Homo sapiens: one gene and its partners. The protein of the gene in region 4 interacts with the protein of the main gene of each other region in a pairwise test. Each region holds a gene or a part of one and is shown on either strand. Other genes may lie near its edges.

Region 1 (7,028 bases), on a different chromosome or scaffold from region 4:
TGACTTGATGCCAGCTATCAGGGAAGAAACCTTAGCTCTGAAATCCAGACAGTTGCCTTGAGTAAACCTTTCATTCAAGATGGTGATCAAAGCACCTAAACAATGGGATGTTCTCAAGCCTACATGAGAAAGAGTTCTCATACACCATTTTCAACTCTCTTGTTAATTACCGTTTCATTTAAAAATGTCAGTGTGGTACAATGTGATCTGAAACTTGATTTCGCTTATAGAATGTGGTAGTGGTGAGATTGTACTATAAATTCTTTGCTAGCTACCATAATCTATTTAAAAAGCAAAACAAAACCCTAAGAGCTGTGCCCAACCAAACTGGCTTAGAGACAGAAACCTTCCAGGGCTGAGGGCTTGGCCTCTGTTGTTATTTATATGTTAACACCTGAGCCATCTTACCCACTTCCATTACTGAAATAACCACATAGGTGCTGATAGCCTCTGAATCACCTATCTCTCCAGACCATTTTAACCAACTGTCCACAAAGTATCTTCACTTGGATGTTGCATGGCATATTTAATACTGAACTCAGGCCGGTGCGGTGGCTTGCGCCTATAATCCCAGCACTTTGGGAGGCTGAGGTGAGAGAAGAGCTTGAGTCTAGGAGTTTCAGACCTGCCTGGGCAACACAGGGAGACCCCGTCTCTACCAAAAACCAAAAACCAACTGAACTCACCATCTTCTCAATTATTCCCCGTACCCCAACTAGCTCTTGCTGTGTCCTAGTGTTAGTGGTTCCCAAACTCTAGTCCACAGACTGACTGTAAGAGTGTCACCTGGGGGAATTCATTAAAAATAGAGTCTCAGCTTCCACTATGATCTTGTGCCTAAGAATCTCTTAGGGTAGAGCCCAGGAATCTGAATTTTTAACAGGCTCCCCACATGATTCCAATACACCTCCAGATCTGGGAAGCACTGCTCTCTATGGCAGAATGGCACCTCCATCCACCTGGTTGTCCAAGCCAAAACTGGGTGTCACCGTTCAGGGAACACAGAATAAGGAACGTAGGCAGTAGGGAACTCTGTCCTTTTAGAGCAGGCCAAAAAGGGAAAATACTCAAACAGAACCGGAGAAAACTCTGCTCATCCGGTTTAGGAGGCTAAATGCTGTCATGTCTCAGCCTGTGTCCCCTACTCCTTGTCTCTCTTGACCATAACTTTATGGCATTTAAACATTCTGCTTCTCCTTTTTTAGGGAGAGAACTATCCATGGTGGTCCACACTCCCATGTTTTCCCATGAGAGTACTCAACAGTGTTAACATTGGGATTCTTGACCTTCTCCATAATCGGCCTTATGCGTTGGTGTTGAGCAGTAGGGATGACATTTTAAAAATTCTGGGTAACCTTTCTTGGTGTTAAGAATTCAGAGAAATTTAATCTAGATTGGGTCTTTTAAGGGTTGACTGGCTAGTATATAATAAGGTCCCATAAGAGCTCTGGGAACAAATGTTACTCCCAACCAGTACTCAAGACAAACATCTTTGAATTGAGGCTGAAGACTTCTCTGATTCTTTAAGACGAATTTAAATGCTCTGTCTAAAGCCTCCCTTGTGCCTGTCCTATCTAGTACTAGAGGACATGTAATCATTGCTCTCATACAACAATGTTTCCCCCAACTAGACTGTAGGCATCCTGAAGATAGTTACACCACCCAGATTTCTGGGCATAATGCATTGTGTCATGATGCTGGCAGAGGCCTTAGAGAATCCGGTCCAACCTCCAATGCTGAGGACCATTTCTCACGGAGGTTGTAGAGTGGGTTCCTACAGGAGAAGGCTCAATTCAATGGCTTCTGAGTCTGTATGTCAGAAAGGACAAGAAAGCAAAGAAGCCCTAAAGATAGAGATAGTTTATCCGAGTGCATAAATGGTGTGGTCCTTAAAAACAGAGGTGCCAGCCAGAAAGGTGGCCTCCTCCTTGACTCTGGCCACCTGCTAGTCGCAACACCCCATCTGCCAAGTTATGGTGGCCTTGCTGCCTGAGGCAAATGTGAGCCTAATGATGTGGATTTTAAGGGGATCCAGATCCAGGTACTTACAAATATATATGCATACACATACACACCACACACACATTTATGCGCATTATCACAAAATCTAATGTGCCTTAGAAGTACGTCCTCAAAGTCTATTCTGCCCGTTTTCTTTTTTTAGTAAAGCAAGCATTCCTCACAGAAACTTTTTTTTTTGAGATGGAGTTTCACTCTTGTTGCCCAGGCTGGAGTGCAATGGTGCAATCTCGGCTCACCGCAACCTCCGCCTCCCGGGTTCAAGTGATTCTCCTGCCTCAGCCTCTCGAGTAGCTGGGATTACAGGCATGCACTACCATGCCCAGCTAATTTTGTATTTTTAGCAGAGACGGGGTTTCTCCATATTGGTCAGGCTGGTCTCGAACTCCTGACCTCAGGTGATCCGGTCCCCTCGGCCTCCCAAAGTGCTGGGATTACAGGTGTGAGCCACTGCACCTGGTCAGAAACTTTTTTTTTTTTTTTTTTTTTTTGAGACGGAGTCTCGCTCTGTCGCCCAGGCCGGACTGCGGACTGCAGTGGTGCAATCTCGGCTCACTGCAAGCTCCGCTTCCCGGGTTCACGCCATTCTCCTGCCTCAGCCTCCCGAGTAGCTGGGACTACAGGCGCCCACCACCGCGCCCGGCTAATTTTTTGTATTTTTAGTAGAGACGGGGTTTCACCTTGTTAGCCAGGATGGTCTCGATCTCCTGACCTCATGATCCACCCGCCTCGGCCTCCCAAAGTGCTGGGATTACAGGCGTGAGCCACCGCGCCCGGCCCTGGTCAGAAACTTTTTTAAAGGGCTGATGAGAATTTATCAGGTGTAGATGTACATGGGGTCAAATAGGCTTTTGCACTTGGCTATTTTCCTGCAGAACCTGCCATTCCTCAGGGGCAGCCTGTGTTCAATCCAAACAACCACCTTGTAATGAACTTTAGATTCAAGAATTTGTTTTGTACAATTCACTCTGCTCTGGAGCAACAGGGAAAGAGTTGTTTTCATCAGTGCAAAATGATTTCTTATGAGTATGCAACAAGAGGCAAATAAAATAGAAAAAAATGAACAATAATCAAAGACTAGGCATAAAATTGACTTCTAATAAAAGGATAAGCTACTAAGAGAGACAGTAGAATCCCCTTTCCTGGTAATCTTTAAAAAGAGACTAAATTTGCACCTACGTAGAATGGTTTAAATAAGACCTGGGTGAAAGTGATATCCTCTCTTCCAGGCCCTTTCAGCCAACCTATCGGCTTTCCTGCCCTTCTTAAAACAAACTCACAGGTACTGTCCCCACTCCTTTGTTCCCTCTGAGCTTCTGACCCAACACAATACATCCAGAGCCACGGGCCCGACTCTGTGGCCAGTGTTTGCACTTCCATCCAGGTAATTCCGTGGTGCTCTATTATTAGGAATTTCTCCCCTTTCCAAGGTCCTTGAAATGCTGTCAGTGTTGTAGGGGGTGGGGAAGGTGGAGTACCTGTTACCAACCAGCTCAATTTCTGTAGCATTCAGGAGGTTTATAAGGTGTTTTCAAAGCAAGATTCATTCCATTTGACCAAAACATTTAAGGCAAATGTGGTAGAAGCATACTGATTTTTTTTTTTTTTGAGACAGAGTCTCGCTGTCACCCAGGCTGGAGTGCAGTGGCTCAATCTCAGCTCACTGCCTCAATCTCAGCTCACTGCAACCTTCACCTCCCAGGTTCAAGAGATTCTCCTGCCTCAGCCTCCCAAGCAGCTGGGACTACAGGCATGCACCACCACACCTGGCTAATTTTTGTGTTTTTAGTAGAGACGGGGTTTCACCATGTTGGCCAGGCTGGTCTCGAACTCCTGACCTCAAGTGATCCACCTGCCTCGTCCTCCCCAAGTGCTGGGATTACAGGCATGAGCCACCGTGCCCGGCCTTACTATGCTATCTTCATGAACAGTCCTGTTATAATTATTATGTCTGAAATTGGAATGTATATGGATTTTGAATTAGTATGGATTTTGAATTAGTAGAGCTTGTATAGTTTAAGTCATCTTAGGTGATAATGGTGTGGCTAAGTTATATTTTTCTTACTGTACCAAGATATTTGTTAACAGTAGCACTTAGGATGAAAATTGGGAACCATAGCTCCCTACATGAGACAGACAGTGTGGAGGCAAAGCAGGCTCTGGAGTCAGGAAGACTCTGTTCAAATCCTCACTCTGCCATTTCCTATTTGGGCTGATTCTTGACATAATCTAGTGGTCCATCTCTTCACCAATACCATGCAAACTGCCAAACCTGCGGCTTATTAATGTCCCACTTTTACTTCCTATGTGTTTTGTGGCTGTTATTGCTATTGTTGTTGTTCTAAGATCAATGGATGAAAAAGTGTCCTAGTAGCCAAAAGAATGAAAGGGCTTGTCTCCAGATACTTTTGAAGTGTTATTGTAGCACCACAGCATTTTAGAGCTGGAATGATACTGAAGACCACTTACTCAAAGAATCATAAAAAGGACTTTGAAAATTCTTTAGCCTAAACTAATTATTCTCAATCCTGGCCAAACATTACAACCACTTGGGGTACTTTTAAAAATTGCTGATGTCCAAGCCCCATTCCTGAATCAGAATCCTTGGGCTTGGGACCCTAGCATCAATATTTTCTATTCTATTCTATTCTATTCTATTCTATTCTATTCTATTCTATTCTATTCTATTCTATTCTATTCTACTCTATTTTATTTTATTTTATTTTATTTTATTTATTTTTTTGAGACAGAGTTTCACTGTCATTGCCCAGGCTGGAGTGCAATGGTGCAATCTCGGCTCACTGCAGCCTTGACCACCTGGGTTCAGGTGATCCTCCTGCCTCTTCCTAAGTAGCAGGGACTACAGGTGCATACTACCATGCCTGGCTAATTTTTTGTATTTTTCGTAGAGACAGGGTTCGCCACATTGCCCAGGCTTCAATACATTTTAAATCTCCCCCAGTGGTTGGTAACATTCAGCTGAAGTTGAGAACTTCTGGTCTAGGGGCCCTTAATTATTTAGGGCATCTATGGATGGCTTCAAAGGGTCAGCGACCTCTTGAAACTCATAAACAAAATTTTGTGTTATGTTTACCCTATCTGATTCAAACTCCCAGCTGGTCCTCAAATTGCTTCCATAACATCCCTACAAAATGACTGTTCAGCTTTTGTTTAAACACTTCCAGTGAAGGGAAACACCTTGCCCCTGAGGAAGCCCATCGCAGACAGTTCTGAGGGTCAAACCCCTTGAGAAAAGTGGGTGGGAGGGTAGCCCAATCTTGAATACAGGAGTCATAAAACATTAGTCAGAAGGATGCATCAAAGTCTTCATGTGAGAATTCTTCACTTCATAGAGGAAAAACCTGAAGCGCAGAGACATTAGTTTGTCTGGCCCAAGCTCATGGAGTTAATGATAGATTGGAGGGTGAATGCCCAGGGCCCCTAGTTCCCTGTTTAGTTCCTGTCCCTCACATCATGCTGCAGAGTCACCTCAAGGGGGTGATCTGTGGTGGCACACTTCAGGATGAACAGGGCTGGGCCTGGCTGAGGGAAGACCCCAATTCCTCCCTCCTGCACCACCCTTCTAGAAGGCAGTCCATTCCAGACAGGATGAGGAGAGCAGCCTGTCTCCTTCTTTAATGCGGGGCGTCTCCCACCCCTGCCCGGCCCCACATGGCTGGAGGTGAAAGCTCCAGGAAAACCCTGCTGGGATAGTCTTCTTGGTGGCCCAGGTGCCAACAGGGAGATCTGGCTTATCTCATACCCTGAGAGATAGGTGCAGGCACTGAAAGGGGAGGGGTGATGAGTGCATTCTGCCTCTGTTCCCCTGGAAGGTGATGTGTGATGATAAAACAGTGATCTGAAGGCTGAAGATCTCCACTATGGACTTGTAAATATACATCAGATTTTAAGTGATCTTAAAGAAACATTGACTTGTTTAGGGTGGAATCAGGCTTGTTAATTATCTGGAGTCATGATGTGTGATATTACAATGTTTTCCATTTACAACCAAGTAGCCCAGGACAAGCTACCACCTCTGAGCCTGGTTGCCACAGGTATAAGCTGGAGTTAGTAATACCCAGGTTTGAACTGTTGATGGAGTGAATTACATAACATAGAAAGTGGCTAGCAGAGTGCCTGGCACACGGCTTGTGTCTGATAATTGGTGGCTGTTACTGTTAATAATACACTTATCAAAATGCAAATATTATGACAAATTATTTTTATATATGTCTAATCTCACTACACATTTCTGATGACAGAGGGGATGTCACAGTACATTTTGAACTCCCAATTCCCACCCACAGAGCTTGGTGCTAGCTCTGCACACGGTAGATATAAGCAAGAACTTAGGCCGAAGTGAATTGAATGACCCATTCTTACCAGATAATTCTGTTCTTGCAGGGGTATTTCGGATCTGGGTTCTGCCTCAAGGCTGACGGAATCAATACATTCAGCAAGTGTATCCTCAGTCACGTCTCCATTGAGAGGGGGCTCCAGGGCGTTGGCATCCTGAGGCTGCACAGGGGGCCCAATGGCGGCAGCCCCTGCACCCTGCACAGCTGCATTTTCATGCCCCTCCCCTCTGGGGTCAGCTGGTGTTGGCTCATGTGAAACTGCAGCTGAATCACAATGCACTTCTGCATCCTCAGGTAAAGAATCACTATTAGGCATCTCAGTAACTTCTGCTTTGTCTCCAGTGGCTAAGGTGTCACCAGCATCATCAGACATTTTAGTATCTGTCAACACAATTATAAACACCTCATGCTTTCATCGAATTGTTAAGCTTCAATTCAAAGCCCTGGATAAATAAATCTGGTAGGGGAAAACTTTTTTTTTTTTTTTGAGACGGAGTTTCGCTCTTGTTGCCTAGGCTGGAGTGCAATGGCATGATCTCAGCTCACTGCAACCTCCGCCTCCCAGGTTCAAGCGATTCTCCTGCCTCAGCCTCCCGAGTAGCTGGGATTACAGGCATGTGCCACGACGCCTGGCTTATTTTGTGTTTTTAG
Region 2 (7,028 bases), on a different chromosome or scaffold from region 4:
CAGCACTCTGGGAGGCCGAGGTGGGCAGATCACTTAAGCCTAGGAGCTTGAGACTAGCCTGGGCAACATGGCAATACCCCATCTCTACAAAAAATACAAAAATTAGCCAGGCATGGTAGTGTGCACCTGTAGTCCCAGCTACTTGGGAGGCTGAGGCAGGAGGATTACTTGAGCCTGGGAGGTCAAGGCCGCAGTGAGCCATGATCCTTTCTCAAAAAAAAAAAAAAAAAAGTACTGAAAATTAGCTCATACATACATATTTAAGCATAATTACTGGGTTTTATATAGTTTACATGTTCTAAGGTATCTCTGAAAAAAATAATCTTCTAATGAAATAATCAGCAAATGATTGGCTAATGGCAATCATTAGACAAATATTGGATGATTAAACTTAAAAAAAAAAAAAAACCCTTGCTGGGCACAGTGGTTCATGCTTGTACTTTGGGAGGCCTAGCACTTTGGGAGGCCAAGGTGGGTGGATCACTCGCGTTCAGGAGTTCGAGACCAGCCTGGCCAACATGGCAAAACCCGGTCTCTATTAAAAATACAAAAATTAGCTGGGCATGGTGGCGGGTGCCTGTGATCCCAGCTACTTAGGAGGTTGAGGCAGGAGAATTGCTTGAACTCAGGAGGCAGAGGTTGGGGTGAGCCAAGATCAAACCACTGCACTCCAGCCTGGGTGACAGAGCAAGACTCCATCTCAAAAACAACAACAACAAAAAAACCCTTTTACCTGTTTTTTTCATTCTTGTAATTGAAGTATAATACAAATCTTAAGTGTAAAACTCAGTGAATGTGTACACGTTACATCCAGGTCAACATATAATCATCCCAGAAGTTTCCTTCATGTCCCTTTGCACCAAGCCCCCACCCCCAAAGAGATTACTGCTCATCTAACTTTTATCACCATACATAAAGTTTTGCTTGTTCTTGAACTTCAATTTGAATCATACAATGTATATGCTATTGCATTTGGCTACTTTTGCTTAACATAGCATCAGTGAGAGTTGTACACGTTTTTGCATGTATCAGCCATTTGTTCTTTTTCATTGCTGTGTAGTATTCCATTGTGCACCTAGACCACAATTTATCTGTCTAGTTTCTTGCTTATGAACATTTGGACTGTTTCCAGTTTTTGCCTCCTGTATTTAAAGCTGTCGTGAGGCCAGGTATGGTGGCTCACACCTGTAATCCCAGTACTTTGGGAGGCCAAGAAGGGAGGATCACTTGAGGTGAGAAGTTGGAGACCAGCCTGGGCAACATAGTGAGACCCATCTCTACAAAAGAAGAAAAGAAAAAATTGAGGCCAGGCACGGTGGCTCACACCTGTAATCCCAGCACTTTGGGAGGCCGAGGCGGGCAGATCACGAGGTCAGGAGATCGAGACCATCCTGGCTAACACAGTGAAACCCCGTCTCTACTAAAAACAAAAAAATTAGCCAGGCGTGGTGGCGGGCACCTGTAGTCCCAGCTACTCGGGAGGCTAAGACAGGAGAATGGCGTGAACCCGGGAGGTGGAGCTTGCAGTGAGCCGAGATCGCACCACTGCACTCCAGCCTGGGCGACAGAGCGAGACTCCATCTCAAAAAAAAGAAAGAAAGAAAAAAAGAGAAAAGAAAAAATTGAGACACAATATAATTCACCCTTTTAAATAAATGTGCAATTCAGTGGTTTTTCGCATATGCACAAGGTTGTGCAACTGTCACCACTGTCTAATACCAGAATGTTTTCATCACTCCAAGAGGAAATGTTATATCCATTCATAATCACTCTACATCCCTTCCTTTCCTCAATCCATGTCAACTACTAATCTACTTTCTGTCTCTATGTTTGTTTGTTTGTTTTTGAGATGGAGTTTCGCTCTTGTTACCTAGGCTAGAGTGCAATGGCGCAATCTTGGCTCACCACAACCTCTGCCTCTCGGGTTCAAGCAATTCTCCTGCCTTAGCCTCCCGAGTAGCTGGGATGATAGGCAGTAGGTGGGATTACCACCATGCCCAGCTAATTTTTGTATTTTTAGTAGAGATGGGGTTTCTCCATGTTGGTCAGGCTGGTCTTGAACTCCCGACCTCAGGTGATCCGCCCGCCTCAGCCTCCCAAAGTGCTGGGATTACAGGCGTGAGCCACCACACCCAGCCCTATTTCTATGTTATTTAATACTTATTCCTGACATTTAATAATGATGGTCAAACTTTTAATATATCAATTTCTTTGATTTTTTTTTTTCTAGGATCCTAAGCACTTCAAGTCAGAGAAGACAGGACGGGGACAGTTGAGGGAAGGCTGGAGAGATAGTCATCAGCCTATCATGTGCTCCTACAAGCTGGTGACTGTGAAGTTTGAGGTCTGGGGGCTTCAGACCAGAGTGGAACAATTTGTACACAAGGTAAGTGGTCCAACAGCAGTTCCTGGGCTGTGGACAAGGTAACTGTCTATATTGCCAAATTGGAGTCCATGATACACAACAGGTGCACAAATACATCAGGTCACTGCATCTCAAAAACACTTTTTGGGCCGGTTGGGGTGGCCAACACCTGTAATCCTAGCACTTTGGGAGGCCGAGGCGGGTAGATCACTTGAGGCCAAGAGTTCAAGACCGGCCTGGCCAACATGGTGAAACCCTGTCTCTACTAAAAATACAAAAACATTAGCTGGGCATGGTGGTGGGTGCCTGTAACCCAGCTACTCAGGAGGCTGAGGCAGGAGAATTACTTGAACCCGGGAGGCAGAGATTGCAGTGAACCAAGATCGTATTATTGCACTCCAGCCTGGGCAATAAGAGAGAAACTCTGTCTCAAAAAATAAGAAATAAAAATAAAAAATAAAAAAATAAAAAATACTTTTTGGATGAAAATGCATTTTATGCATAGGTTCAATTTTCTTCCACTAATAGATGTTTTATGCCCCATCTCTCATTCTGTGACCTCCATGTCTATTAGGCAAGCGTATTTGGGAAACACACTTCTCAGTTTGGTATTGGACTCATCTACTCCCAGACAGAGAAACTTGGGAAACAGCCAAAGGGCTTATCTGTGAGCACAGCCCCTAAGGTTAATTGCCACCCAAAAGATCTACAAATGTAAGCACCTAAGCAGAAGATGCCCAGAGGTAGAACAAGAAATCCCAATAGTCCCATTAGACAGTATACCCCAGCATTTCTGCTTCTTTAATAATTCTGTTACTAAAGTAGCCAGGTGTGGTGGCTCATGCCTGTAATACCAGCCCTTTGGGAGGCTGAGGCAGGTGGATCACTTGAGGTCAGGAGTTCGAGACCAGCCTGGCCAACCTGGTGAAACCCTGTCTCTGCTAAAAATACAAAAAAATTAGCCGGGTGTGGTGGCACGTGCCTATAATCCCAGCTACTCAGGAGGCTGAGGCAGGGAGAATTGCTTGAACCCAGGAGGCAGAGGTTGCAGTGAGCCAAGATCGTGCTGCTGCACTCCAGCCTGGGTGACAGAGCAAGACTCCATCTCAAAAAAAAAAAAAAAAAAAGGAAATAATAAGAATAATTCTGTTACCAAATAATTGTTAACAGCCTCGGGATGCAGATTTCAATTGTAAACCTACTTTGGCTAAACATGTTCATTTTGGTTTTTTGTTGTTGTTGCTGCTGCTGTTGTTTTGAGACGGAGTCTCACTCTGTCGCCAGGCTGGAGTACAGTGGCACAATCTCAGCTCACTGCAACCTCTGCCTCCCGGGTTCAAGTGATTATCCTGCCTCAGCCTCCCGAGTAGCTGGGACTACTGGGAGGTGCGCACGCCACCATGCCCAGCTAATTTTTGTATTTTTAGTAGAGATGGAGTTTCACCATGTTGGCAGGGATGGTCTCGATCTCTTGACCTCCTGATCTATCTGCCTCGGCCTCCCAAAGTGCTGGGATTACAGACATGACCCACCGTGCCCGGCCGGCATGTTCATTTTGTAGCAGAATCCCACTTGGTGAAGAGTCATATTTTCTCAGGGTTTCTAACATGACTCTGTCCCTCATGGGAGAAAAAAATGGGAAATGCAATGTTGAGCATTGCCCTTTGTAGCTGCTCTCATTTTCATAAGAATAAATACTACCCAAATTGTCTCTACATTCCAGATAGGCTGGTTATCTGTTTATTTTTCCACTTAAAAACTGATAAGAGTAGCTTGCCAAAATTATTTTGGAGTCACTGGAATTTAACCTTAATGCACTGAGCTTTTTGTTACTTAGATGGATTTGTCTATTGAGATTGGGGGCCAGTTAACAATAAAAAGTTTAATTCTGGAATTTAGGTCCAAGAACTAGACTGCCAGTCTCTTGAACCCTCATAACTCAGGCTCACGGTAATGGCAGACTCTGGCACAAACATGAGAGCCCTGGGTGTTTTCTTGAACAGAGAAGCATGCCACTCCTTTCCCGTGCTCCAGAACCCAGCCAGCCAGCCAGGAGCCAGAATGAAATGTGATACGTAGAAATCAAGCTCCAGGATCTCCTGTTTTCCTCCTGTGTCCTGATTATTGCACAGGAAAGCAATTGCAGCTCCCAAAGTAAATGTTTTCCAGCCTCAGCTTTGTGTCTATCTAAGGCAGTGTCTTCCTTGGTTTCCCACAGCATCCCTTTTTGTGTGTGGCTTTTTAAGGTAAAAAGACTTCCTCTTACTAGGGCCACTATCATAGTATTATTTTGTTTTGTTTTGTTTTTTTGAGATGGAGTCTCAATCTGTTGCCCAGGCTGGAGTGCAGTGACATGATCTCGGCTCACTGCAACCTCCACCTCCCAGGTTCAAGCAATTCTTGTGCCTGAGCCTCCTGAGTAGCTGAGGCACAGGTGCATGCCACCACACCAGGCTAACTTTTGTATTATTAGTAGAGACGGGGTTTCACCATGTTAGCCAGGCCAGTCTCGAACTCCTAACCTTAAGTGATTTGCCTGCCTCGGCCTCCCAAAGTACTGGGTTTACAGTCGTGAGCCACCATGCCCGGCTTCATAGTGTGTTTTCCACTCACAAAGCATATTTAATAAGGCAGAGTTGTCAGTTAAAAAGAGAATAATACAAAATAAAAATAAGGCTGGGCGTGGTTCACACCTGTAATCCCAGCACTTTGAGAGGCCGAGGCAGGCAGATCACTTGAGGTCAGGAGTAGTTCGAGACCAGCCTGGCCAACATGGTGAACTCTCATCTCTACTAAAAATACAAAAATTAGCTGGGCGTGGTGACAGGTGACTGTAGTCCCAGCTACTCCAGAGGCCGAGGCAGGAGAATCACTTGAACCCAGGAAGTAGAGGTTGCAGTGAGCCTAGGTCGCGCCACTGCACTACAGCCTGGGGGACAGAGCAAGACTCTGTCTCCAAAATAATAATAATAATAATAATAATAATAATTTAAAAGGCCATATTTATATTGCCCCAGGGTCCACTGTGTTTCTTTTCTCACAGATGACTCAGGCTAGTTTTGAGAATCTGTTTCCTGAAAATACCTGTAAGATTTATGCCTTGCCCTTTCCAAATATAAGGAAGTGTTATTGACACTCCAGAAACGCACCTGCTCTCGCACGTGAGTCGCTAATGAGTATCTGAGGCTAGCATTTGCATGGGTTGAAGGTGCCAGGGATGCCTTTCTCTGAACACCTTTGTTTTTTTAAGAATCTATTCACAGTTAAGGGGAAAAAAATGTTCGAAAGCGAGCCATGAGCACATTATTGAATTCTGGTTTCCAGCCGACAGCTGTGTTGTGCTTCGTGTAATAGGGTACATTTACTGATGCCTCGATGCTGTTCTTTTGATTTCCATGAATTTGAGACACTCAGCACTCAAGTGTGTATAGCTGTGTGTTGTTTCTTGTATTCATTATGTGTTTCCTACTTTCAAGTCATAAAAGCCTCACTAGATATCCAGAGGCCTGGAGTCATAAACACTTCATTATAAATGCTTTCCTTGTTTCTGCAAATTCACTGAATTAAAATCCTTCATTTATTGAAACATGCTTGAACCTTCCACGAGAGGTTTTTCACAATCACTGGATTTGTTTGGCAGGAAGAAAGGAATGTTACAGGGATACTGTGAGTATCCAAGAAATGTAAAAAGACATATTTACCCAGGATGGAAAAGAATACCATGAAATAAAAACACATGAACAGTATCTCACACACGCAGACACACACACACACACAAATGGTATATACTATTTTCCTTAGCCTTCTATTGCCATTATGTGTCACCATAAGAAACAATTTCATCCTTTTTGTGTCCAGTCAAGCTTGTCATTCCCATTACGTTCTATTCTAGTTCAGGTCTCTTTTTTCATCCTTTCAATGGTAAACGGCCTTTTTCCCCCTCTTCTATTACATGAAAGTCAAACCTAAAAGGATATTTACTTATCTTGTATCTCACACATTCATTTATGCTTGTTTAAAAATTGAGGCCAGGCGTGGTGGCTCATGCCTGTAATCCCAGCACTTTGGGAGGCCGAGGCAGGCAGATCACAAGATCAGGGGTTCGAGACCAGCCTGACCAACATGGTGAAACCCCGTCTCTACTAAAAAAATACAAAAATTAGCCGGGCATGGTGACAGGCACCTGTAATCCCAGCTACTCAGGAGGCTGAGGCAGGAGAATCACTTGAACCAGGGAAGCGGAGGTTACAGTGAGCCGAGATCGCAGTGAGCCGAGATGGCGCCACTGCACTCCAGCCTAGGGGACAGAGCGAGACTCCGTCTCAAAAAAAAAAAAAAAAAAAAAAAGATAAAAAGAAAAATTGAATCAATATTTATTTTTTAAATAATTTTTTGTGGGTACATAGTAGGTGTAAACATTTAGGGGGTACATGAGATGTTTTCATAAGGCCTGCAATGTGAAATAGGCACAATGTGAGGAATGGGGTATCCATCCCCTCCAGCATTTATCCTTTGTGTTACAAAGAATCCAATTACACTCTTAAGTTATTTTAAAATGTACAATTAAAAAATTGAATCAGGCTGGGTGAAGTGGCTCACACCTGTAATCCCAGCACTTTGGGAGGCCAAGACAGGTGAACTGCTCGAGGCCGGGAGTTTGAGA
Region 3 (7,028 bases), on a different chromosome or scaffold from region 4:
TTAAGATTTACATTCTGTAATTCCATGCCCACTCCAATTCCGGGTGAGATGACTTTCCTACATGCTCCTACATGCTCCCACGCCACTTTCCAGCTTACAGCACTTATGTAACTAGAATATCATAACTTTCACACATAATGTCTTCCTATTGCCAACAAAAGACAATAAACAGATCCTATTTCTAATTGCCAAAACCTCCAAACACAAGGTAACCAACAAACTATGTGAAGTAAAACTTGTTTTTTCACTGGCAGCAGTAGATGAGGAAGAAAAAAGGAGCTAACATTTCTCGCTTTCAGTACTCATCAGGCCCGACCCTGCTTAGTTTCCAAGATCAGATGAGATTAGGTGTGTTCACGGTGGTACGGCTGCAGGCTCTGAGCATCCTGTTGTACCAGGGATTCTCATGTATTTATGAATCACTGTACTCCTAGCACCTAAAACAGTGCTTATCAGACACAGCACCCGTATCTGTTAAGTGAGCTGACTGAACCAATGTATCACCTATCTCATTTACTCTTTATGGTCATAAAAGCAAGGAATTTGTAAGTTCATTTTACAAATGAGAACATAAAAGTCAAAAATAAGTTAGATCCTTTTATAAAACCCTATCTCCCACAAAAAAGAATGAAAACAAAATAACATACGTGATTGTCTTTTGTAGTCTTTATAAGCTGTTCTATCATTGATTTCAACTCATTCCCCGACACTGTTGATACCACTACAGAATAAAACAACGCTGCCAGTTCGCGCATTTCTTCTTTACTGTTATTCATCAGACTCTGAGCAGTATAAAAAAAAAACAAATATATACATGACACAGAACCACGTGCCTGATGACAACATCTTTTAAAATTAAAAGAACGTTCAATCTGTTGATGGATATTGAGAAAAAAACAAGCCATTATTTGAAAACAAAATGAAAGCTGAATGAATTAGATAACAAAATCTTAGGTCCATTTTCGTCAAAGATACACAAGTACAAAACAGGTGAAATTTATTCACAGATGATCTAAAACAAGGGTCAGCAAACTTCTGTAAAAAAACAAAAAGGCTTTATGGGCCATTTGGTCTCTGCTGCAACTACTCCACTCTGCCACTGCAGTACAAAGGCAGCAACAGACAATACACAATGAATGAGCGTGGCTGGGTTCCAGTAAAACATGGACACGACAATGTTTGTGTCATGAAACATTATTCGTTTCTTGATTTTTTTTTCCACATTTAAAAATGTAAAAACCATTCTTAGCTTGCAAACCATACAAAAACAGGAGGCAGGCCCTATTTGGACCTTTGACTATAGCATGACAACCTCTCATCTAAAACATCAAAGTTCAATAAAATCATTTTAAAATCAGTCAATATTCATAAGAAATAAAAAAACCTTTTTAAACTAAAAGCAATTTCATAAGACCAGACTATCCAGAAATGTGCAAAACTCACACCTCCTGGCAAATTTCATTCATGTTTTCACACTTAAAGACATAATTTTTACATTTTTACCATCATTCAAGCTGTATTTTCCAAAAAAAGAACCGCAATATGTAGCACATGGAGATACAGAAAACTGTATGGGCCAACACTTATACAAAAAAAAAAATTATTCATTATTTATCTGAAATTCAAATTTAACTGAGTATCTTGTATTTTTATTTTCCAAACCTGGCATCCCTTTTGGTGTGGCCATGGGACAGGGACACCCTCATACATGACTGTTAGAAGTGTACATTGGTACCACACACGGAGGGTGTGGCATTACCTATGAAAATTACAAAAACACATGTCCTCTGATACAGCTATTCCACTTCTAGGGAATCCATCTAAAACATATACTTCCTCAATATGCAAGATGATAGATTATTCATTGCAGCAGAATGGAAGTACTCTAAATGACCATCTATAAAGATCTAGAATACATGATAGTACATTCATACAATAAAAACTGAGGCTGTTAAAGAAGATGCTCTCTCCATAGTTGTAGTGGAATAGTTCTCTACTATTAAGTGAAAGAATGTATAAAACAGTATGAATAGTATGCTGCTTTTGATAAAAAGATGGGACAAAAATTTTAAATGCATGTTTTTATGTGTATGTACATAAGTAAACTCTAGAAAGCATGCCATATATAAGTGGTCACTTATATATGTTTGTCAGAGGGGAGAGGAAAGGACAAAAATTAGAAGGCTTGGGTAGGTTGGAGATGGTTACGGAAAGGAGACATTTTACATAGTTTTTATTTAAACTACACAAATCTATTGCTTATTTTTTCAAAAAAAAAAAACTTTTGAAACAGAAAAGGAACTTTTTTTTACTCCTATGCTTCTCAATTCATCTCCCAATCTCCTCCAGATGTGTCAATGAGACATAGTGACCTACATGCTTCCCAGTAAGTGTCTGATGATAAGAGAGTTTTCAAAACGACCTAAAGGCAGAAAAGGTCATAGGGATCCCGCTGGCAGGAAAAAGAAATCATGAAGTTAAGGTCTGAAATAGAATTTTTTTTAAAAAAAGGTACATGCAGAACATACCTTTATCCATTCTGTTTTGTCTACAAATTTGGTAGCCAGCTTTTCTGGATACACTGACACAGCTTCCAATAGACAGTACATAACCGGCAAACCTAAATAAGAATTCAGAATCACCTTAAATTTCAAGAAAAGTAATGAACATACAGGGATCACTAAATTCCTTTAAAGTATAAGGCCACTGCTTTAGCACACATTCTTTCGGTTCTATTAAAAAAAAAAAAAAGAAAACCTACACAACCTAAATATAGTATGTGATTCACTACAGCAAATTTACAGATGAGCTATCTATAAAAAGGATATCCTGTTCTTCACATCCACTTCCGAAGTAAAAATGTATTTATCTATTGTTAGCATTTCTTTCCGAAAAAAGAAGTAGTGTATCCAGAATGAATCAGGTAAGTTTAAAAAGAAACAAAGGCTAATGTTCAGTTACAGAAGAAAAAGAATAATTTTGCTATAAATTCTTAGCAAAGTTTAAAATTAGATTTTTGCTTAAGTGCTTCAGTATCTTTCCTTCGCGTCACATATTCCTACCTCCAACACCTGCTAACAGCTGCTGAAGCAGGCCAATGTAGATCTGGACAGGGTTAGTCTCCCCACTCTTGTTAGATGATGAGGGTGCCATCTGCCCGCTTGACATTAAAGTCCGTATGTAGCGCCCAATGGCTGGGGCATGATCCTGCATATCAGCCAAACTCTGAGAGGTGGGCACCACCCCCGCACTGTGCGCAAGGCACATGCGCAAGTACAGAACGATCTACAAACAGAACGGAGAGGAAGACTGCATAAGCTTCTCGAAAAGTCAGTGTGGGAAGGTACTCTTCAAAGTAACAATTTCTAGTTTTGATTCACCCACACTTCTTTATAAAGCTATTCCAATCCTCATGGAAGGCAGAAAATATGCCATAATGGAGCAAAATTTGTATAATAAGGTTTGCAAATCCAAAGAATTTTTTAAGATTGTTAAAATACAAACTGAACTTTTAAAGTCAGAAATTGGAGCTGGAGGCTGTTATCCTTAGCAAACTAACGCAGGAACAGAAAATCAAATACCACATGTTCTCACTTATAAGTGGGAGTTAGATGATAAGAACTTCTGAACGCAAAGAAGCAAACAACAGACACTGGGGTATACTTGAGGAGAGAGGGTGGGAGGAGGGAGAGGAGCAGAAAAGATAACTATGGGGTATTGGGCTTAATATCTGGGTAATGAAATAGTATATACAACAAACCCCCATGACACATATTTACCTATATAACAAACCTTCACATGTACCCTCGAACCTAAAATAAAAGTTAAAAATTATAATAAAAATCATTATTTTTTAAAAGCCGTGTGTGTGTGTGTGTGTGTGTGTGAGAGAGAGAGAAAGACAGAGAGAGAGGAAAGAAATCTGAAGTAAATGGCCTATTACTCCTGCAGAATTCCAGTTGTGTTTACTCCATTGACACAAGAATCTGAGAAAATGGGTTCAATTCATCTACAGAAAAATAGATATAACACCATAAAAACCTCTGATATAGACCAGACACAGTGGCTCACGCCTGTAATCCCAACACTTTGGGAGGCTGAGGCAGGAGGACTGCTTTAGCTCAGGAGTTCAAGACCAGCCTGGGAAACATGGTGAAACCCATCTCTACCAAAAAGATAACAGAATTAGCCAGGGGTGGTGGTGCACGCCTGTAGTCATGGCTACTCAGGAGACTGGGACGGAGGTTCACTTGAGCCCAGGAGGCAAGGTTGCAATGAACCGAGATCACGCCATTCACTGTACTCCAGCACGGGCAACAGAGTGAGACTCCTTCTCAAAAAAAAAAAAAACCAAACAAACAAAAAAAACAACCCTTACATAAACAGGCTGCCAAGGAGTCCATCCTCTGGAAGCTTTTTCATTGATCGTTAAAATAGGATAGGCAGCAAATTCACTGTGAATATTCTTAATCCGAACAAGATCACCTCTTGTAATTTACCTAGAGCAAGTCAATAATCTAAAAAACAGAATTTCCCTTAATAAGTGTGATCAATTTAATCCTCTCCAACCTTCAAAACTAAATAACCCTAACAACCTCAACAACAGGTTGGCTTTAAAACCCAAATCTAACTTGCTGCAAAATCCCAATAGTAATCACTACAGAACATCCAGTTTTTTCACAAAAAGAATCTCACTGAGATAAATATATTTACATACTTCACTATGAATTAAAATAATACCAATTTCCCAATACTTTTTTTTTAAATAAACAACCCGATGAAGAACAATGACACCACAATATGGGTTTACCTAAAACACAACAAAATGACAGACCCCTCTTTGGGTGTGGTGTGATCTTTTTAGAACACTTACAAAAAGTAAATAGAAATATATGAAAGTTCTACCTCTCCAAAGGCTGCTGGGTTAAATGGAAGGACAGTGGTCCCGGTCATGTACTTGACTGGAGTTTTCATTCGATGAGAAGCCTAAGTTTAAAAAGTCCAAAACAGACACAATTACTGAAAAATGAAGCATACCTGCCCTTCCTCAACTCAAAAACAACTGTGTTTCTAGCTACATGTCCTAAGTTTGCTTCTTTTTCTGATCAAACATTTTCCACTTTCCTATTAACCATGCTGATCGTGCATGTCCCTCACACACTAAAAGACAAGTGTATTGCCCTTTTTCCATGTTTGTTCTGGTTTGTTTAAAAATAATAAACCTATTCCAGACATCTACTAATATGGTCATCTCAGGTCACTGCATGCCAGTTATTTTCATTAATAATCAAAGTAGGAGGAAACTACAAGCAGAGAATCTTCTGACCACAAATAGACTGTGCTGCTATGTGGAAAACAGAATCATGGCCGCTGCATACTGACCTTCAACTCCCTTAAGGTGCCTACCTAGCAAAGAGCTAGGATCACCAGTGGAGGTAAAAGGTAGGAAGGTGTCCTCCGGCAAAGTGGGACAGAGTCAAGGCCTGGAGGGGGTGGATGGTCATTACTGCCAATATCCTGGATCTACTAGCAGAAAACACTGTGCAAAAGCAAAAACTTACAAAAGCAGATGGGATGCTCTCTTATGAACACGGTGGGAAGAACATGAACTGTTCCCTGAAGCATCCTTAAACTTACACTACCCTAAAGCGTGCCCTTAAAAATAAAAAGGAGAACCAGCGTGGGCAATATAGCAAAACTCTGTCTCTACAAAAAATAAAAAAATTAGCCAGGCACGGTGGTGCACGCCTGTAGTCCCAGCTATCGGGAGGCTGAGGAGGGTGGATCACTTGAGTCTGGGACGTGGAGGTTTTAGTGAACTGAGACCACACCACTGCACTCTAGCCTGGGTGACCAGAGCAAGACCCTGTCTCAAAAAAAAATAAAAAAATTTTAAAAAAAGGAGATGTATTTTTAAGCATGTCATATTAAGGGAAAAAATATTTAACACAGCCAAAATGTTGCCAAGCATGAAAGGAATTATAAGTAATTCAAGTTTAGGCAAAACAGATCAATTACAGGTGAGGATTACAATTTTTTTTCCTCACTTTGTATCTTCTTCTTATTGTAAGTATTAATGCTAGAAACTTTATGAGTCAGCTGGGCATGGTGGTTCATGCCTGTAAACCTAGCACTTTGGGAGGCCAAGGCAGGTGGATCACCTGAGGTCAGGAGTTCAAGACCAGCCTGGCCAACATGGTGAAACACTGTTTCTACTAAAAATACAAAAAATTAACCGGGCTTGGTGGCAGGCGCCTATAATCCCAGCTATTCAGGAGCTGGGGCAGGAGAATCACTTGAACCCAGGTAGTGGAGTTTGCAGTGAGCCAAGACCGTGCCATTGCACTCCAGCCTGGGCAACAAGAGCGAAGCTCCATCTCAAAAAAAAAAAAGAAAAGAAAAGAAAAAGAAATTTTATGAGTCAACATCTAGTGATTACATTTTTCACTTTAAAGATGTTTTTATTTTCATCATCCATTATGATTTAGACTAATTACCTTAAGTTGCATGCCATACCTTTTCTTGGATGTAATAAACCATTTCTGGGAAGGAAGGCATCTGCTCAGAAGTACTTTCTTTTCTGTTTCTACCTGGAAGACACCTTAATACGCGTTGTGCTTCTCCATGAACTTCTTCACGTCTTTCAGAAAAAGACAAATAAGAATAAAAAATAAATGTCACCAATGGGAAATGATCATTTGAAGAATAAGAACAGCAATTTTATTTGGCAGCTAGAGTTCTCAGAAAATGTCTTAAATACATTCTTGGCTATCTAAGCAGAGTCAACATAACACATTATAAGAAATCACTTCTTTTCAGAAATTGCATGAGGTCCGGGGACTCATCTGGCTTACATCTTTGAATTTGACTCACATTAAAAAACAAGATAGGGTACTTTAAGTAAATTATTATGTAAATATCTATGTGTATGCTTTACCTCGTAGAGTTAAACCATAAACAACTATAATACATATTTTAGAAGTCAGTGACTATCCAGTGGTCTACACACTCCACCCAAAGTCTTACAT
Region 4 (7,028 bases):
GTTCCTACTTGCACCTCCATACCAGGCTCCCTGGCCTTGGGGCAGAAGCTTCTGAAGACTGGGGTGGAGCACCATGTGGAGGGGCCATCGAGGAACAGAGGAGCCAGAGTTCAAGTGAGGACAGCGATGGCACTGCAGGGCCACAGCCTGGTTTACCTGCCAAGTTTCCAGTTGTGCTTCTGGTGGGTGTCCGGCCCGGGTTGGAGTTTGAAGATGAGCAGGAAAGGTCTCCATCCAGGTGGCTGCAGATGGCTGCTCACCCAGCCCCTACTGAGAGGCCACGGTCCCAGTTCTGGTTCTCTGTCCTGTATCCAGGAGTGGCAGGGTAGCGAGGCTCTAGCTTCCAGGTTGGGGATGGAGACAGTGGGGACAGTGCCATGCCCCGAGCCTGTGCTGTTGGGCAGCTGGTATCCTGCTCCCAGCCAGAGAGTGTACATCTTCGTGTAGTGGATTTTCCTAACAACCAGGGGACATGAGGGCAGGTTGTTTTCCCTGTTTTACAGGTGGCAAAATGAGATTCAGGAGCAATGTCTCCAGCATTTTTGTCCTCACCTTCTGAATAATAGCAGCCATATTTGGGCCTCTGAAGGGCTAGAGTTCTCTGAGGAGCTGCTTCTCTGATCTCTGTCCTGCACTTGGCCTCTGGGAGCTCCTATGGGTCCTCAGCAGAGTCCACAGGGCTCTTCGGAGTCCCCTCCCTGTGCCACAGCCTGGAGCCTGTCCTTAGGTGGTAAGCTGAGGCCGCCACTGCGCTCACCTCATGGGCTTGGGGGGAAAGTGAGTCACCCAGGAAATAGACAATGAGCTCTTTATTGTCTTTGGAGTCTGCTGGAGCCAGGGAGGACAGATGAACCCCATGTGAATCCTGCTTCCTGGAGCCCACAGTGTGGTGGGTGAGGTGACACCAGGAATCATATAACTAATAGGAGGTAGCATGAGGGAGGCCTGATATCTCACCACCATTGCCTCCCCCTCCTCCAGAGAGGCCGTGTTGGTGCAAGGCTATAGGATGTGGTATTGTTGGCGTGGAGGATGGTGTTTGGTTAGAGTCACCATTGAGAGTCATAGAGGGAAGCGAAGCTCCCCTTGAAGGGCTTTTTTTTTTTGGCTGGACCTGAGAATTAAATTGACATAAGACAGGTACACAGGAGAAAAGCACGTACGACTTCTTTTTTCTTGAGATGGAGTATTGTTCTGTCACCCAGGCTGGAGTGCAGTGGTGCAATCTCGGCTCACTGCAACCTCCGCCTCCCAGATTCAAGCGATTCTCCTGCTTCAGCCTCCTGAGTACCTTGGGATTACAGGTGCCCACCCTTGCGCCTGGCTAATTTTTGTATTTTTAGTAGAGACGGGGTTTTGTCATGTTGTCCAGGCTGGTCTCGAAGTCGAGCTCAGGTGATCCGCCCATCTCAGCCTTCCAAAATGCTGGGATTACAGGTGTGTGCCACCATGCCCAGCCAACACACACATTTATTTAATGCAAGTTTTACCTAGCACAGAGAAGCAGTGAGAGTCAGTTACTTATATATTGAATTGGACCAAGTAACTTGTGAAGAAGCTAGTAAATATATGGAGGCTAAAAAGCTGAGTGGTTCTGTTCTAACAAGGTCTGCACAGTAATCTCTTGGCCTCGACTTCTCATCCTTAAAAATAAGGAGATCGTCCTATGTTTCCCTGGGGACTTTCATCTCCTGCTTTTAGGAAACACAAAAGAGGTCAAAGCATCTTATTGCGCCTGCTGTTTTTCAGTAGCCTTTAACTGATAATAGTCAATGGGCCAGGGTGGGTGGGCAGGTGCGATGGCTCACATGTATAGTCCTGCCCAGGTGGGTGCATCCTTAGAGCCCAGGAGTTCAAGACCGGCCTGGGAAACATAGCAAAATGCTGTCTCAAAACCAAAAACCAAAATAAAACCAAAAACCACAGACACAGACACACACACACACACAGAAAATCATGTCGTGTGAAGGAATACAAGCAGAATGCATACCATGTGATTCCTCATCTTATTAAAATACAACTAATCTATTGTGATAAAAAGCAGAAGAAGCATTGCTGGGGACATAGGAGCAAAGCAGAAGAGAGGATTACATTGAAAAATGAAGAAACACTGCAGGACGGTAGACATGTCATTATCTTATCGCGGCGATAGTTCCACAGTGTATACGTACATCTCAACCTACCAAACTACATGCTTCAAAAATGTACACTTTGTTTCATATCCATTATACCACAATAAATCTATTTTAAAAAAACCTTCAATAGAATATAAGCACTTGAGTGTATACTGTATTCCCTATAGCACTTGCACATAGATCATGGAAATAGGTATGCATAAAAAGTCAGTACCCAGTTAAAGTGGAATTCTAAAAGGTAATTAACATTAAAATGTGCAGGGGAAAAAGGAGTAAAAAAATTAGACTAGACAACCGTAGTTTAAATGGTAAACGTATAGGTCTATTTTGACTAACAATTATTGCACTCCCTGTAAATCCACTGAGCACTACAGTTCAATGGTAGAAATGTTTGGAAGGGCTGAAAAAACAAGACTCAGCTATATCTTGTCTATATGAGATGGGCCTTAAAAGGAAGACACAGATGCTGTCTGTGGAAAGCAAATAGATGGAAAAAGATACCCCACGCAGAGTGTAAGGCCAAGAAAACTGCCGTGGCTATCTCAGTATCACATGAAGTTGATTTTGTTAGCGGTGGACGAGATCCGAGTTACCCTACGTTGAAGGCGGCGAATCCGTATGGGTCCACAGCACCTTCAGCTCTTCGCCTCCTGAGAAGAAAGAATTGGACTGAGGGGCATAAGGCAGAAGGAGAGACAGAGGCAAGTTTCAGAGCAGGAGTGAAAGTTTATTAAAAAAGCTTTAGAACAGGAAGGAAAGGAAGGAACGGAAAGAAAAGAAGGAAAGTACAACTTGAAAGATGGCCGAGCAGGTGACTTGAGAAACAGTGCACAGCCGGACTGCCTGAGTTGGGGTTTTATAGGTTGGCCTACTTCCAGGATCTTGCCTTACTTCTCCCCACTCCTGAAATCTTATTGGGAAGCTGCTGATCAGTTTCAGGTGTTTTCTATGTATTAGGAGACTGCCTTTTTCTGGCATTGGCTGTAACCAGTTCTTACTTTAGAGACACGGTTATCAACCACCTGATGGTCGCCCAACACTGCTGGTGTCAGAAGCGGGGAGCCCTCTCCTACCCTGCTCATACCTGACTAGCTGCCTACTGTAACAATTTTAGGACATAGAATATTATGGGAGCTCAAAAGGGACCCTTGTAGTTAAAAAGGTTAATTCTTCAAGGAGTATAATAATAATCACAAATTGTATATGCCTAGTAATACAGCTGCAGAACACATGATGCAAAAAGAGAATGAAAAGGAGATTAAATCAGCTGTTTCTCTGTAATTGACAGAACGGTCAGATGAAAACCCCGGTAAAGTGGCAAGCGATCTGCACACTATCAACCACCTTGACTTAACTGACATTTAAAGAGCAGGAGTGGAACATCCACTGAACACTGATTCCTTTCTATGCTCATGATACTTTCACCAAGATAGACTGGGTTCTGGGATATAAAACACGCGATATGACCTCTAAACTTAATGAAACGAGACTGGAAGTCAGTAATAGTATCCATAGGGAATTCTAAAATTTGGTTATTGAACAATACACTTCTAAAAAATCTGTGGTTCAGAGAAGAAATCAAAAGGGAAGGTAAAATGTTTCAAAATAAATAATAATAATATAACAGCAAAACTGGTGGGAAATGGCTAACAGTGCTCGGAGTGAAATAATACAGCTTTCAATGTGTCTATTAAAAAAATTGGGGAGATGGGGAGTTACTCCTGAAGGGTATGCAGTTCCTTTCTGGAGTGATAAAAACATTCTAAGATTGATTATAGTGATGATTGCATAGCTATGAGTATATTAAAAAACTACTGAAATGTAGACTAAATGGGTGAATTATATGAATAATCATAATTACTAATTATGTGATTTGTGTCTCGTTAAAGCTGTCAAAAAAAGAAAAATATGTGAAATTTATGGCCTGAAGATCTACATTAATCAATCATAAAATATAAGCATAAATTTAAACCAAAGTAACAAGGAGGAACATAAATCAAGGAAATAGAATAGAAACCACAAAAAGAACTGACAAAACGGACTGTGTGTGGTGGCTTACGCCTGTAATCCTAGTACTTTGGGAGGCTCAGGCAGGCAGAACGCTTGAGCTCAGGAGTTAGACCAGCCTGGGCAACGTGATGAAACCCCAGCTGTATAAAATACACCAATATTAGCCCAGGCATTGGGGCACTCTCCTGTCTGTGGTCCCGGCCACTTAGGGACTGAGGTTGGAGGACCACTTGAGCCCGGGAGGCAGAGATTGTAGTGAGCAGAGATTACACCACTGCACTCCAACCTGGATGACAGAGGGAGATCCCGTCTCCAAAAAAGAAAAAAAAAAAAAAAGAGTTGAGAAAATGAATAGTTGCTCTTGAAAAGGAGTAAGGGTGTGAGAGCAGAGAAAGGTGACAGAGACATCGCCTGAACCTAGAGGGACCCCAGCTCTAGAAGGGAGGATTTGGGAAATGTGCATTAGCTTCACTGTCACCAACTACTAGGCAGGCTTTCATGTGGAAGAAAGCTACATTTTGTCTTGCTGAGAGCCAGGTAGTTGAACAGAGCCCAAGGTAAGTAGCTTTTATTGTAACCATTTTGTTTTTTCTCAGGAGCAAGATTATATTAAATTTAATTAAATGTAAATTTACAATTAAATTAATTTTGTACTTTTACACACTCCCAACTTAAAAGTTACAAAAACTATGCAAAAAAAATTTGAAAAATAGCTGTTGGCATGATGAAAGCTATTATTGAATTTTTCAGTGTGTACTTTCTACAAACAAGGAAATTAACATCAACACATTACCACTATCTAATATGCAGACTCTATTCCGATTCTCCAGTTGTCTTCTCGTCGTCATTTATAACACAGAGATCATGGCCATAATCCCTGAATTGCTGTTTTATCTTTTTCTGTCACTCTTTGATATTTAGTGGGAACAGCTTGTCAAGGTCCTTTGTGAAGCAGAAATTACTTAATGTTTGATGCTATATCCTGACTTTCTTTAAGGTTATATTGTAACCCTCATTTGTAAAAATGTGTATTTTTATGTGTGTGTCTGTGTGTGTGCGAGAGAGAGAGAGAGAGAGAGAATATTCACCCACTGGTCAATTAAACACTTGGTCAAACTAAATACATTAGATGCTATTTCTGCTTGAAGGGCTCATATGTGTGGTTTTTTTGTTTTTTGTTTTTTGTTTTTTTTTTTGAGACAGAGTCTCGCTCTTTCGCCCAGGCTGGAGTGCAGTGCAAGCTCCGCCTCCTGGGTTCACGCCGTTCTCCTGCCTCAGCCTCCCAAGTAGCTGGGGTTACAGGTGCCCGCCACCATGCCCAGCTAATTTTTTGTATTTTTAGTAGAGACGGGGTTTCACTGTGTTAACCAGGATGGTCTCAATCTCCTGACCTCATGATCCACCCACTTTGGCCTCCCAAAGTGCTGTGATTACAGGCCTGAGCCACCGCGCCTGGCCTTTTGTGTTCTTATAAAATCTTTTCTTGCCAACTACAGTGGTGTGTTCCTGTTACCCAACTTGCTTGGGAGACTGAGGCGGGAGGATCACTTGAGGCCAGAAGTTCCAGGCTGTAGTAGACTATGATCACACCTGTGAATAGACACTGCATTCTAGCCTGGGCAACATAGCAAGACTCTATCAAAAAAAAAAAAAAACTCTTCTGCTCATATTTTCTGGGGTAAATATATTTTATGTTATAATATGATAAAAGGATACGGAGGTGTTTTTCTTTATAGAAAATAGCTACCTAACAGGCCAGGGGACAAACACGGATGCAAAAGAATGAAAGTTTGGAATGGGAAAAAAGTCCAGGCTCTCATGGGTTTTGTCACTTGGGGTGAAGGGAATGTGAGACGGAGCCTGGGAGAGGTAAGGTCTGGAAGCCACTCAAGCCCATCTCTGCCTTGTCCCCACAGGTCCGGGTTGACTCTGCCACCATCCCCCGGCAGGACGAAGTTCCCCAGCAGACAGTGGCCCCACAGCAACAGAGGCGCAGCCTCAAGGAGGAGGAGTGTCCAGCAGGTGCACTCTTATTTTTAAAAATCAGTTTATTTTTAGTTGACAGATAAACATTGTATATATTCATGGTGTACACCATGATGTTTGGAAATATGCACGCATTGTGAAATGGCTAAATCAAGCTAATTCACATACTTATCGTGTATTTGTTGTAAGAACACTTAAAAGTCTACTCAGCAATTTTCAGCTGTATGGATACAGAGCCCTGGGATAAGCCCTCTTTGCCCTCCTCACCTGTGGGTTCTGTAGCCATCCTCATCTGTGGGTGTTGCATCCGTGGTTGCAACCAACACAGATCAAAAATATGTGGAAAAAATAATGAAAATGATAACATGTCAATAAAAGTAGATAAAAAGCAATGCAGTAAAGCACTTATTTACATAGCATGTCTATTGCATTAGGTATTACAAGTAACCTAGAAATGATTTAAAGCATATGTACCTGGGGTGTATGCAATACTATCCCAATTTGTATCAGGGACTTGTGTAAGTGCAGAGTTTGTTCCATGGAATATATTCCCTGTGAATAGAAGGCAGGACTGTACAACACATTGTTTTAATAACTGTAGTCACCATGTCACACAATACATCTCTTGAATTTATTTCCCCCTGTCTAACTGAAATTTTGTATCCTTTGACCAGCATCTCTCCAACCCACCGTGCAAATACAGCGCTGGTAATCACCATTCTACTCTCTACCTCTATGAGATCAAGTTTTAAGATTCCACATATGTGAGATCATGAGGTGTTTGTCTCTCTGTGCCTGGCTTATTTCACTTAGCATGATATCTCCAGGTTCATCCATGCTGTCACAAATGACAGAATTTCCTTCTTTGTTGAGGCTGAATAGTATTCCATTGTGTCT

Evidence for each region.
Region 1: the proteins of TNFRSF10D (region 4) and FAM114A1 interact in binary tests that used the Homo sapiens proteins (3 or more experiments, as listed by UniProt).
Region 2: the proteins of TNFRSF10D (region 4) and PITPNC1 interact in binary tests that used the Homo sapiens proteins (3 or more experiments, as listed by UniProt).
Region 3: the proteins of TNFRSF10D (region 4) and ECPAS interact in binary tests that used the Homo sapiens proteins (3 or more experiments, as listed by UniProt).

What each region holds. Positions count from the first base shown.
Region 1 is NC_000004.12:38,877,801-38,884,828, reverse strand, and holds part of FAM114A1 (protein NOXP20), read right to left. Parts: intron 6,759-7,028; 5' UTR 6,751-6,758; coding exon 6,403-6,750; intron 1-6,402. UniProt on the Homo sapiens protein: May play a role in neuronal cell development.
Region 2 is NC_000017.11:67,667,278-67,674,305, forward strand, and holds part of PITPNC1 (cytoplasmic phosphatidylinositol transfer protein 1), read left to right. Parts: intron 1-2,230; coding exon 2,231-2,386; intron 2,387-7,028.
Region 3 is NC_000009.12:111,411,367-111,418,394, forward strand, and holds part of ECPAS (proteasome adapter and scaffold protein ECM29), read right to left. Parts: intron 6,641-7,028; coding exon 6,517-6,640; intron 4,987-6,516; coding exon 4,906-4,986; intron 3,286-4,905; coding exon 3,063-3,285; intron 2,621-3,062; coding exon 2,529-2,620; intron 783-2,528; coding exon 648-782; intron 1-647. UniProt on the Homo sapiens protein: Adapter/scaffolding protein that binds to the 26S proteasome, motor proteins and other compartment specific proteins. May couple the proteasome to different compartments including endosome, endoplasmic reticulum and centrosome.
Region 4 is NC_000008.11:23,154,013-23,161,040, reverse strand, and holds part of TNFRSF10D (tumor necrosis factor receptor superfamily member 10D precursor), read left to right. Parts: intron 1-6,061; coding exon 6,062-6,167; intron 6,168-7,028. UniProt on the Homo sapiens protein: Receptor for the cytotoxic ligand TRAIL. Contains a truncated death domain and hence is not capable of inducing apoptosis but protects against TRAIL-mediated apoptosis. Reports are contradictory with regards to its ability to induce the NF-kappa-B pathway.